Linked DNA regions of Homo sapiens. The protein of the gene in region 2 purifies or fractionates together with the protein of the main gene of each other region. This does not show direct contact. Each region holds a gene or a part of one and is shown on either strand. Other genes may lie near its edges.

The links. Proteins that work in one complex are often made in the same cells at the same time.
Region 1: the proteins of HS3ST2 (region 2) and GINM1 purify together in Homo sapiens (affinity purification with mass spectrometry; 2 studies listed by BioGRID and IntAct, with this or other methods). This does not show direct contact.
Region 3: the proteins of HS3ST2 (region 2) and PIGA purify together in Homo sapiens (affinity purification with mass spectrometry; 2 studies listed by BioGRID and IntAct, with this or other methods). This does not show direct contact.

The regions. Positions count from the first base shown.
Region 1 is NC_000006.12:149,586,731-149,590,406, forward strand, and holds part of GINM1 (glycoprotein integral membrane protein 1 precursor), read left to right. Parts: intron 1-3,676.
Region 2 is NC_000016.10:22,817,036-22,820,711, reverse strand, and holds part of HS3ST2 (heparan sulfate glucosamine 3-O-sulfotransferase 2), read right to left. Parts: exon of another isoform or gene 2,259-3,676; intron 1-2,258. UniProt on the Homo sapiens protein: Sulfotransferase that utilizes 3'-phospho-5'-adenylyl sulfate (PAPS) to catalyze the transfer of a sulfo group to an N-unsubstituted glucosamine linked to a 2-O-sulfo iduronic acid unit on heparan sulfate.
Region 3 is NC_000023.11:15,325,492-15,329,167, reverse strand, and holds part of PIGA (phosphatidylinositol N-acetylglucosaminyltransferase subunit A), read left to right. Parts: exon of another isoform or gene 1-854; coding exon of another isoform or gene 855-947; intron 948-3,121; coding exon 3,122-3,254; intron 3,255-3,676. UniProt on the Homo sapiens protein: Catalytic subunit of the glycosylphosphatidylinositol-N-acetylglucosaminyltransferase (GPI-GnT) complex that catalyzes the transfer of N-acetylglucosamine from UDP-N-acetylglucosamine to phosphatidylinositol and participates in the first step of GPI biosynthesis.

The DNA of each region.
Region 1 (3,676 bases), on a different chromosome or scaffold from region 2:
TTATTTTAATTCTATTTTATTTTTTATTACTTATTTTTGAGACAAGGTCTCACCTTGACACCCAGGCTGGAATGCAGTGGCTCAGTCATGGCTCACTGCAGCCTCAATCTCCCAAGACTCAAGTGATCCTCTCACCTCAATCTCCCAAGACTCAAGTGATCCTCTCACCTCAGCCTCCTGAGTAGCTAGGACTAAGGTGTGTGTCACCATGCCCAGCTAATTTTTTTAATTTATTTTTTGTAGAGGCCAGGTTGGCCCAGGCTGGTCTCAAACTCCTGGGGTCAAGCAGTCCTTCCACCTTGGCTTCCCAAAGTTCTGGGATTACAGGCATCAGCCACCATGCCCAGCCCTTAATATTATTTTTAACTGACATGTCATAATTATGTATAGCTTACCTATTCTTTTTATGGCTGCATAGTTCTAAAGGAGATAGGAAAAACCAAAGCATAGGAAAAATACTTTGGTTTTTCCTACTCTGACACTCTGGAGTACTTCACGTTTGGGCACCAATACGTGTGTGGGGATTTTTCACCACCAATAACTAATTCTCCAGTGGACACCAGCTGGGTGTCCTCTAATTCAGTTCAGTTCTGACACTTTCCACCTGGACACAGCGTCAGATCCCACAGGCTAAGGGCTTAGTTCCACAAGACTGCCCCCCTTCAGATGCCAGTTGTAAGCCCCAGGTTGTGATGTGTGATTCTGACCAGCTGGGTATAAAGAGGTTGCCATGACTTCCTCTTTGGGTTTGATTAATTTGCTTGGGACGTCTTTGGGGCGGCTCACAGATCTCAGGGAAACACCTCCACTTACTGGTTTATTACAAAGGAAACATGAAGAGGCAGATGGAAGAAGTGCATAGGGCAAGACATGGGGAGGGGGAGAGGGGTTCAGAGCTTCCCTGCCCTCCCTAGGTGCACCTCTATCCAGGTCCCATACCTCTGTGTGTTCAGCTATCCAGAAGCTCTCCAAAGCTAGTCCTTTTGGGTTCTTTTGCAGGTTTCATCACACAGGCATGATTGATTACATCATTGGTCACTGGTGATCAACTCAACCTTCAGTACCCCGTTCCCTTCCCCAAGGTTGGGGGATGGGACTGATCTCATGGTTGATACCCCTGGCAACCAGCTCCCCTGTTGAGGCTATCCAGGATCCCCCAGCCATCAGTCATCATTAGCATCCAAAAGATACTTACCACTTTGGAGATTTAAGGATTTTAGGAGCTGTTCCAGGAAGCCAGAGGAACTTACAAGTCATAATATCACAGGTGTTCCACAGTATAGATATACCTTAATATAACCATTCCTCTAACATTTAGGTAATTTCCAATTTCATGTTAATCCCAATAATGTTCTAGTATACATCCTTGCACATATATTTCTTTGCACATGTGTATTTATGTAGAATAGATTCCTAAAAGTAAAATTACTGTGTCACAAGTAATTGTATTAACTCCTTACAACCTGATGATAATCTTTTTTGGTTTTGCTACTAAAAATATAATTCATCTTAATTTGCATTTTCATCTTACTAGCATCTTTGCTAGTTTAGGTCTGGGTGGGTTCAACATCTTTGTGATAATTGGCTATATATGATTCTCTCATGACTTGCTTACGTAGAGCCTCTGGCCATTTTTCAATTGTGTTGGCATTTTGTAACTATTAGTATATAAGAGCTCTTTTGTCTGTTATACATATGTAATGCACATTGCAGATTTTTTTACTAATCCCAGCCTATCGTTTGTCTTTTGCTTATTTATGGTATCTCATCATACAAAAGCTTTAAATTCAAGGCCTAAGTAATTCATGTTATTCCTTTACAGCATGTAGGGTTTTTATTTTGCCTACTAAGTAGGCCAGACTTTCCTATCTTAAAATTATGGGGCTTTTTTTGTTTGTTTTTTGTTTTTTAAAGACAGGGTTTTGTTCTGTTGCCCAGGCTGGAGTACAGTGGCAGTGCTATCAAGGCCCACTGCAGCCTTGACCCTCCTGGGTTCAAGCGATCCTCCTGCCTCAGCCTCCCAAGTAGCTGGGACTACAGGCACTTGCCACCCTGCCTGGCTAATTTGTTGTTGTTGTTGTTGTTGTTGTTGAGACACAGTCTTGCTCTGTTGCCCTGGCTGGAGTGCAGTGGTGTGATCTTGGCTTGCTGCAACCTCCACCTCCTGGTTTCAAGCAATTCTCATGCCTCAGCCTCCTGAATAGCTTGAGATTACAGGCGCCCGCCACCATGCCTGGCCAATTTTTGTATTTTTAGTAGAGATGGGTTTCACCATGTTGGCCAGGATGGTCTCGAACTCCTGACCTCAAGTGACCCACCCGTCTCGGCCTCCCAAAGTGCTGGGATTGCAGGCGTGAGCCACCGTGCCCAGCCATTTTTTTAAAAAAAATTTATTTTGTGTAGAGACAGGGTCTCACTATGTTGCCCAGGCTGGACTCCTTGGGCCCAAGCAGTCCTCCTGCTTCAGCCTCCAAAGGTGCTGGGATTACTAAGGGCATGAGCCACTGTGCCCAGCCATTATATTTTCTTAAAATTTATTTATTTATTTATTTATATATTTGAGACAGAGTCTCGCTTTGTTGCCCAGGCTAGAGTGCAGTGGCACAATCTCTGCTCACTGCAACCTCAACTTCCCGGGGTCAAGAGATTCTCCTGCCTCAGCCTCCCGAGTAGCTGGGATTACAGGCGTGCACCACCACAGCCGGCTAATTTATGTATTTTTAGTAGAGACAGGGTTTCACCATGTTGGCCAGGCTGGCCTCGAACTCCTGACCTCAGGTGATCCACCCACCTCAGCCTCCCAAAGTGCTGGGATTACAGGCATGAGCCACTGCACCCAGCCAAAATTTATTTTTTAGCATTACTTTTCTGTATACTTTTAAAGCTAGAGTTCTCATTTTGTTTCCCAGACAGAGGCCATTTTTCCATTAGTAATTTATCATTGACTTAGAATGTTACCTTATTATAAACTAAATTTCCATATATGTTAGTCTTTTTCTGGACTGTTTTCTGTCCTAGTGATCTATTTGTCTATTCCTGTGCCAGTAGCACAGTTTTAATTACTCTCATGTTTTGTTTTTGTTTTTGAGACAGGGGCTAACTTTGTCACCCAGGCGGCAGTGCAGTGGCACGATCTCGGCTCACTGCAACCTCCACTTCCCGGGTTCAAGCGATCCTCCCACCTCAGCCTCCTGAATAGCTAGCTAGCTGGGACTGCATGTGTCCCATGCCCAGCTAATTTTTTCTATTTTTAGTAGAGATGGGGTTTTGCCATGTTTCCCAGGCTGATCTTGAACTCCTGGGCTCAAGTGATCTGCCCGCCTTGGCCTCCCAAAGTGCTGGGATTATAGGTGTGAGCCCCTACACCTGGCCTACTATCATGTTTTAATAAAACCTTTGAGAGCTACTTAAGACAACTTTGTCTTCTCCCCATTGTTCTTTTAAAAAAAATCTTATGGCTGTTCTTGCAGTTACTCCCCTGTGAACTTTAGAATCTGTTTGGTTCTATAAACAACTAACCCCCGTTGATGTTCTTATTAGAATAACACTGAATTTACAATGCAGGGTCCTAGATTCAATCCAAAGACGTACTCTCTGGTCAGGGATTTTAAGTAACAAAAAGAGCAACACTATCTAAAGACCTAAGGTTGTGTTGTGGTGGTGAGTATTATTTAGA
Region 2 (3,676 bases):
TTGAATTGTAGCTCCCATAATTCCCACATGTTGTCAGAGGGACCAGGTGGGAGATAATTGAATCATGGCGGTTTCCCGCATACTGTTCTCGTGATGGTGAATAAGTCTCACGAAATCTGATGGCTTTTTACGGAGTTTCCCCTTTTGCTTGGCTCTCATTTCTCTCTTGCCTGCTGCCATGTAAAACATGCCTTTCTCCTTCTGTCATGATTGTGAGGCCTCCTCAGCCACATGGAACTGTGAGTCCATTAAACCTCTTTTTCTTTTTAAATTACCCAGTGTTGGGTATGTCTTTATCAGCAGTGTGAAAATGGATTAATAGACTAAGGCTTTGGGGAAAGCCTGTTCTTCATTCCCCTTCTCAGCTCCAAGGGGAAGGGAAACCAGCTCTTCAAAAAACTTCCTTGAGCAATGACAATTCTTGTTGCCCATTCCGAATGTTCCTCCATGCCTGACAAGAACTGTACATTTGCTGGCACTAAGTATTATATCTACAGCATGCTGCAAGGCTGACAGAGTGCTGCAAGACAAATGGGGGGGGGTTTATGGACTCAATGGTTTCATTTAATCATACTGTGTGACGTTCGCCTGGACCAAGACAGGGAATTTCTGTATAAAGGCCTAAGTCTGCATAGATGCTGCAATTGTGCATGCAGGTGCACATGTGTGGGTGTGCACACACATTCATCTATGTGCACACCCAATGAGCACAGATCAGTCTGTTTTGTGTGTTGATCAATTTGTTGAAAGATGATAAAACTGTCTGCATTAACTACGTCATGGCAGGAGGCCCCTTACCTTCTGCCTTTGATTTTATTTTTTTCTAAGGTTTGCATTTCCAGAATTGGGCTTTGCAATTAGAATATGATTTCTTGATGAAAATGAACTGGATAATGTGATAGATCTTATTCTGGGCTTTTTATTCTCTTTCGTACTTAGACTGTTGCCTCTGGGGCAAATATTCTGTCTTCTTTGCTTTGCACCATCCCAAGAACATCATCGATGCTGAACAAATAAATAACCAGAGTTGTGAAGTGAAGTCTGAAATTTATAGAACAGGCTCATCTATCAAAATTTGGACACCAGAACACAGAGTCAATTATCACATATTAACTTGCTCTTGTTGGCATTTCAATGCATTTAGAAAAGATACACTTCCTCCACACACACATTCCCCTGCCATACCGAAACACCAGCAAAATTGAGAACACTTCAGACATATCTCAGCTTTCCCTGTGACTCTAAAAACTACTACACACAGCAAAGCTTATATCTGTTTATAAAAGATGACCCTGAAGAGTCTATTTCACATCCAAACTTCCTTAGAATGGAGAGCATCCTAAAGATAACCTTAGATTTGGAAAAACATTTTCATGTAGATAGTCTTACTTGATTTTTATAAGGTTGCAAAGCAGTTCAGGCATCATTGCCATTTCACAGGTGAGCAGACTGACACCCAGATATGTGAACTGACTTTCTGTTAACATGGAAGGAGGGAAGGAAAGAGAAAAGGAAGGGAGGAAGGGAGGAAGGAAGGAGGGAAGGAAGGAAGGAGGGAAGGAAGGAAGGAAGGAAGGAATGAAGGAAGGAAGGAAGGAAGGAAGGAAGGGAGGGAGGGAGGAAGGGAGGGAGGGAGGGAAGGAAGGAAGGAGGGAAGGAAGGAAGGAAGGAATGAAGGAAGGAAGGAAGGAAGGGAGGGAGGGAGGGAGGGAGGAAGGAAGGAGGGAAGGAAGGAAGGAGGGAAGGAAGGAAGGAAGGAAGGAAGGAAGGAAGGGAGGGAGGGAGGGAGGGAAGGAAGGAAGGAGGGAAGGAAGGAAGGAAGGAATGAAGGAAGGAAGGAAGGAAGGGAGGGAGGGAGGGAGGGAGGAAGGAAGGAGGGAAGGAAGGAAGGAAGGAAGGAAGGAAGGAAGGGAGGGAGGGAGGGAAGGAAGGAAGGAGGGAAGGAAGGAATGAAGGAAGGAAGGAAGGAAGGGAAGGAGGGAGGGAGGGAAGGAAGGAAGGAGGGAAGGAAGGAAGGCAGGCAAGGAGGGAGGGAGGAAGGAAGGAAGGAAGGAAAAGGAGAAGGGAAAGGGGAGAGAGGGAAGGAGGAAGGGAAGGGAAGGAATAAAGAGGAAAGTATGGAACTATCTTTATAGCAATTGATTAATTCCTCAGCCCGATTTAGTAACAGCAGCAGCATCAGAAACTAATATTTTTAATACTAACAGAACTAATAGTGATAACAGGAGTGTTGTAGTAATTAGTAGCAATAACAGTAGTAACATTACTGCCTTGTCTTTATATATCATAGAATTTTCCAGGGCAATTTCATGTACAGTTTTGCATTTATTCTTCACAACACGTTTCTAGGATAGTTACTACAGGTCCCATTCCATGATGAGGAAGCTGAGACTTGGGAGAATCACCTTTCTTCAAATCATACAGCACCTAGGTGACCACCTCTGGTCTTCTGACTGTGGTTCCCTGTCCTGGTTCCCTCATCAGCCTGGTGTTGCTTTGCCCACCTGTCCAAGCAGCTAGGAGATACCACCCTGCAGCTCTTACCTCGGGGAGGAAATGTGGGTGGGGGAGAACCCAGGCCAGACACATAGTTGAGGTAAGCATCAGAGATGGCATGGCAGAAAGACAGCAAATTGGAGAGAACCCACTGCAGAAGGCTGGGCTCTCTGGTAGTGGCCTGAACGGGAGTGGTTCCCAAGAAGGATCAGGCTAAGGACAAGAAGGTGCAGACTCTGTCTCCTGGTCTCTCCAAATGATGGTGTCTTTCTGGCTATATCACTCGGCCTTCAGCTTTATCTCCATTTACCCACAGAAAGAAGCCCCTCCTTTGGGTTAAGGGTAAAGCTTTTGATTTTTCCACTATCTGGATTTCAGCCTCCTGATCAGGAAGTTATCACCAGGGGCTTTGATGTGGGCAGATCATACTAAGATCCACACTGCCTGCAACTCTGCACCTCCCCCTTTGGAAAGCACAGTCCACTCCAATGGGTGCAAGGGTTCTTTGGCTATGTCTGCCCAGTGGACCCTGGCTTTATGATGGCAAGCTGTGAACTGACAAGGCAGTGGACAGAGAGCGGAACATCCTGTCACCCACCGTACCTAGCTCATGGGATTCAGGAAGAAAGTAAGAACATGGGTTTTAAAAGATTCCAGAAATCCCCATGATTTCTGCAGTTAATGTGTATGACTTGGTCATAATAAAAAGAAATGTACAAAAATGTTCTTTACATACAGAAAGATGTTCTGGAGGTTATGGAAACAGCATCTAAGTGGGGTAGTATTACCCTGCACAGAAATGGCAATCCACAAGCTAAACACTTGACTCTAGGGGTGTGGATTTGTAACTGAAAGAAGCACAAACCACACAGCCTTTTCCTGACACTGGAGCCTCCCAGCCTTCCTGGTCAAGCAATGGGGAGAGGGCAATTACGACCAGACCTCTAGGATAGTCTTTTAGAAATATAAAGTGGGGAAAGGTGGTAGAGGGGGAGAGAAGAGAGAAGCAGAGCTGTCAGCATGCTTGATGTTAAATAAAACCTACCAAGACTCAGCTGAGAATTTTAGCAGAATCCAAATGTGCTAAAAAAAAATAAATAAATAAAAAATAAGACATGGCTTCCCTCTCTAAGGTTCACAGCTAAGCTTGCTTAGAATCACACATGCCAAGGTTAAAAAT
Region 3 (3,676 bases), on a different chromosome or scaffold from region 2:
CACTGAATTCAGTGGTGTGCCAGTGTGCTAGGGAGTGGCCTAAAATCTAGATGTGGGCCTTGGTCAGTTTACGTTTGGAATGGAGAATCTTGATTGACCCAGCAGTCCATTTAAGTGGAGGTTGGCAAGGAAACTTGGCCTGAACTTCATTTTCTGGTTTGAAGGCAATGACATGCTTTCATTCTTTAATCAGGAACATGTGAACCGACTGGCATTCTGTATTCTGAATTCCTCCTGGGACATTAGTGATGTGTTTTTTTGTAACTTAGGAATTGTACCTAATTTATTTTTTAACCAAATAGCATATCTTCTTGAGATGGCTAGCTGAGAAAGAGTATGACACAAGTGTGATCAAGGATCAGCAAAATTAACTACCCATGCAAAGATTAAACCTGTTACCTTTACTTCCCTAATGTGGTATTTTAACTAGCTGAGCTAACCACCAATGGAGTGATGGTATGGCCTTTCCTGTACTCAATTCAGTAATTGAACAGTTATTTATCGAACCCTCTCCAGATGCCAGGCACCCTGCAGAAAGTAACATTCTGAAAAGGAACAGCCATGCCTGTAGCCCAAAAGTGAGTAGTTGTATTAATGGTCCATTCCTTATTAACAAATTAATTTCCTCAGGAGTTTATTGGACCAGATATCAAAGTCCCACTGGAATGTCTTAAGTGAGAGAGAGGATAAATCAAAGTTTTCCTTATCCAGGCTTTTTGGATGTCTTTTTCCTGAGCCTCCTCTTCCAAGCCTGTTTTGCTCTCAGTCAGGATTTACCAGCACTCTGCATGTGTAGGCACGCTCACCTGCTTCCTTCTGTAGTGGTAATGACAACCTACATTTGTATTCTGCAGTTGATAAAGCCTGTTCGTGGTACAATACCTCATTTGACCCTCCCAACAACTGTAGGGTAGATGTTATCTACATGAAATTGAGTCTCAGAGAGGGTAAGTAACTCACCCAGGTTACACAGTAAGTAACAGAGATGACACACGAGTTCAGCTTTTCTGGAGCTAAGTTCTCCTCTTCCTCCACCCATGCCCAGCCACTCATATCCTAGGTGTAGATCAGAAGGTTCTTAAAAATATTGTTAGACTGAGCTTTAAAAGCAGTTTGGATCAGAGATTTTCATTGTCTGTTTTGTGTTCACATGGCAGTCGAAAGTCTCTAGGTTCCATTGCATTATACCCTTCTTAGAGGCTCCAGAATAAATTTTTTTATAGTGGTGGGGAAAAGCCCTTATTCTTAGAATAAGAATATAGATCATTGGTAATAGTAATCAGTTCCATTTCTTATGAGATACTTGTCAGGATTAAATGACATAATGAATTTAAAGTATATTGCCTGTCATAGCAAGCACTCTGTTACTGTTAGCTATTATCATTTATGACTATTGCTCTATGTTGTTTTTTGTTTGTTTGAAGAATGGGCTCTTAACCTTGTACGAGAAAGAAAAGGGTGAGGAAGAAAATGGATTGAAGGAATTGTAGGAGACTAAATGTTAAAAGTCATTAAACTACCTTCTGGTTTATCTAGAAATCCAATTGAGTGATTTGTTAGTAGACATGAAACAAAGATAGCTATGATTTTAATGAGAAGCCTTCATATTCAGAAAAGCTGCGTGGGAATTTTTGATACATACAATAACAGTTTGAAAGTACTAGCAGAGTTTACTTAATGAATTCTACTTTGTATTATTTAATAAAAATGACCCTATAATATATATGTCATTTCTCCTATTTTATATCTGATATAAAATATCATCTATTTTATAACTGATCTGCCTATTTGGGGTGGAAGATTAAGAAATACAATTCTTATGTGTGTGTGCATTTTTAAAATTAATAAACTTAGCTCTAGGTGGATTATTTTATATTTACTTTTACTTTTTTTTTGTTTTTTTTTTTTTGAGACGGAGTCTCGCTCTGTCTCCCAGGCTGGAGTGCAGTGGCGCAATCTCGGCTCACTGCAAACTCCGCCTCCCGGGTTCACGCCATTCTCCTGCCTCAGCCTCCGGAGTAGCTGGGACTACAGGCGCCCGCCACTACGCCCGGCTAATTTTTTGTATTTTTAGTAGAGACGGGGTTTCACCATGTTAGCCAGGATGGTCTCAATTTCCTGACCTTGTGATCCGCCTGCCTTGGCCTCCCGAAATGCTGGGATTACTGGGATTACAGGCGTGAGCCACCGCGCCCTGCCTACTCTTACTTTTGAATATGTACGTTTTGTAATTGTTAATGAACTAGATTCTTAAATAGTGTTGACATTGTTGGGACTTTGGATAGCCACTCACTTTTTCAGACTAATAGGGCATAATTTACTTTATTGTTTTCTATTACCTGAGATTGTGTTTATATATTATAAGAAAATCATTTTGGAGAAAAAAGGAGCCAAGATGCATCCTTTTGTTCTATGGACTGTAGTGATCTAACAGTTGATGCCCTGCTGCCTTCATTTACCCTCATTCCAGGAAAGTGGGCTATAGCTGGTTTGAACTTAAATTTTGCGATAATGTAGTGTTCACTGCAAAATTCTCTGTACCAGCCACATTTTAAACAAAGTGGAGGCAGCAGTTAGATTTCGTTGCTTAGCCTTTTCCTGTGGCAGTAAGTGGGATCACAGACTGATAGAATTTTATAGCTGAAAGAGACTTTAGGTACATAGGTATCTTTATTTTATAGATCTTGAAACTTCCCCACGATCAATGGGCTTGCTGGTTAAAAAAGCTGGGAAAAGACCCAGATCTCCAATCAGCTGCCTGCTCTGGAGAAAACGAACTCAAACCTTAGCCACCTTAAATATACCTTTTTTAGAAGTACGCAATGTATAAACACAAGTGAATAACTTAAAGAATAGTCTGTTGAGATGAAACAGAATAGTCCATATTTTGGGTGTGTGGAAGGTAATGCATGTCAAGGTCTACGTCTTCAAGAATTGTAACTCTTGGGGGACCACTGCCAGTTTGCAAACAATTCCACTCCTGGAAAAGGTTTAAGAGAGTTTCTCTCCTTTATGGAGTGCATAGCTAATACTTTTCAAAATAAGTGGATTCTCAGTCGTTCTGGTGAATTTTTTTAAGTTTAAATATTAATATCTCCAACATTCAACTTTATATTTTCAGGGATCGATTTGCTTAGTGGTATAATACCTGAACTCTGTCAGAAATATCCAGATTTAAATTTCATAATTGGAGGAGAGGGACCAAAGAGAATCATTTTGGAAGAAGTTCGGGAAAGATACCAGCTGCATGACAGGTATTGATGAATTTCATGTTGTCTTGAGGGAGAAGATGTCAATTATCTCTATTTGGTTTTAACTGCATGCGTACCTTAGGTGTGTTGCTTCTCCTGCATGTAATTGATATACATATAATTGATATAAATCTAATGCAAGGACTGTTTTCAAAATTTTTATATAAATAGGAAACCTAGTTAATTCACTATTTTTTCCATTAGCCCAATATTATTTGACTTTGGGGGGCCATTGTTGGAGGCACCATGAAAGGCACAAAAAACAGCTGCTTTAACTGGAAGCGTTTGCAGATTTCCAGGCCATACTGTGTAGTGATTTAAGTAATAGGGCTCAAATCATGTAAATTGCTCTGCACATACAGATTTGGACAAGTCTCTTCCTCAGTAACTTACACAACACAAGGCTTGTACGTGTAAAGCATCAA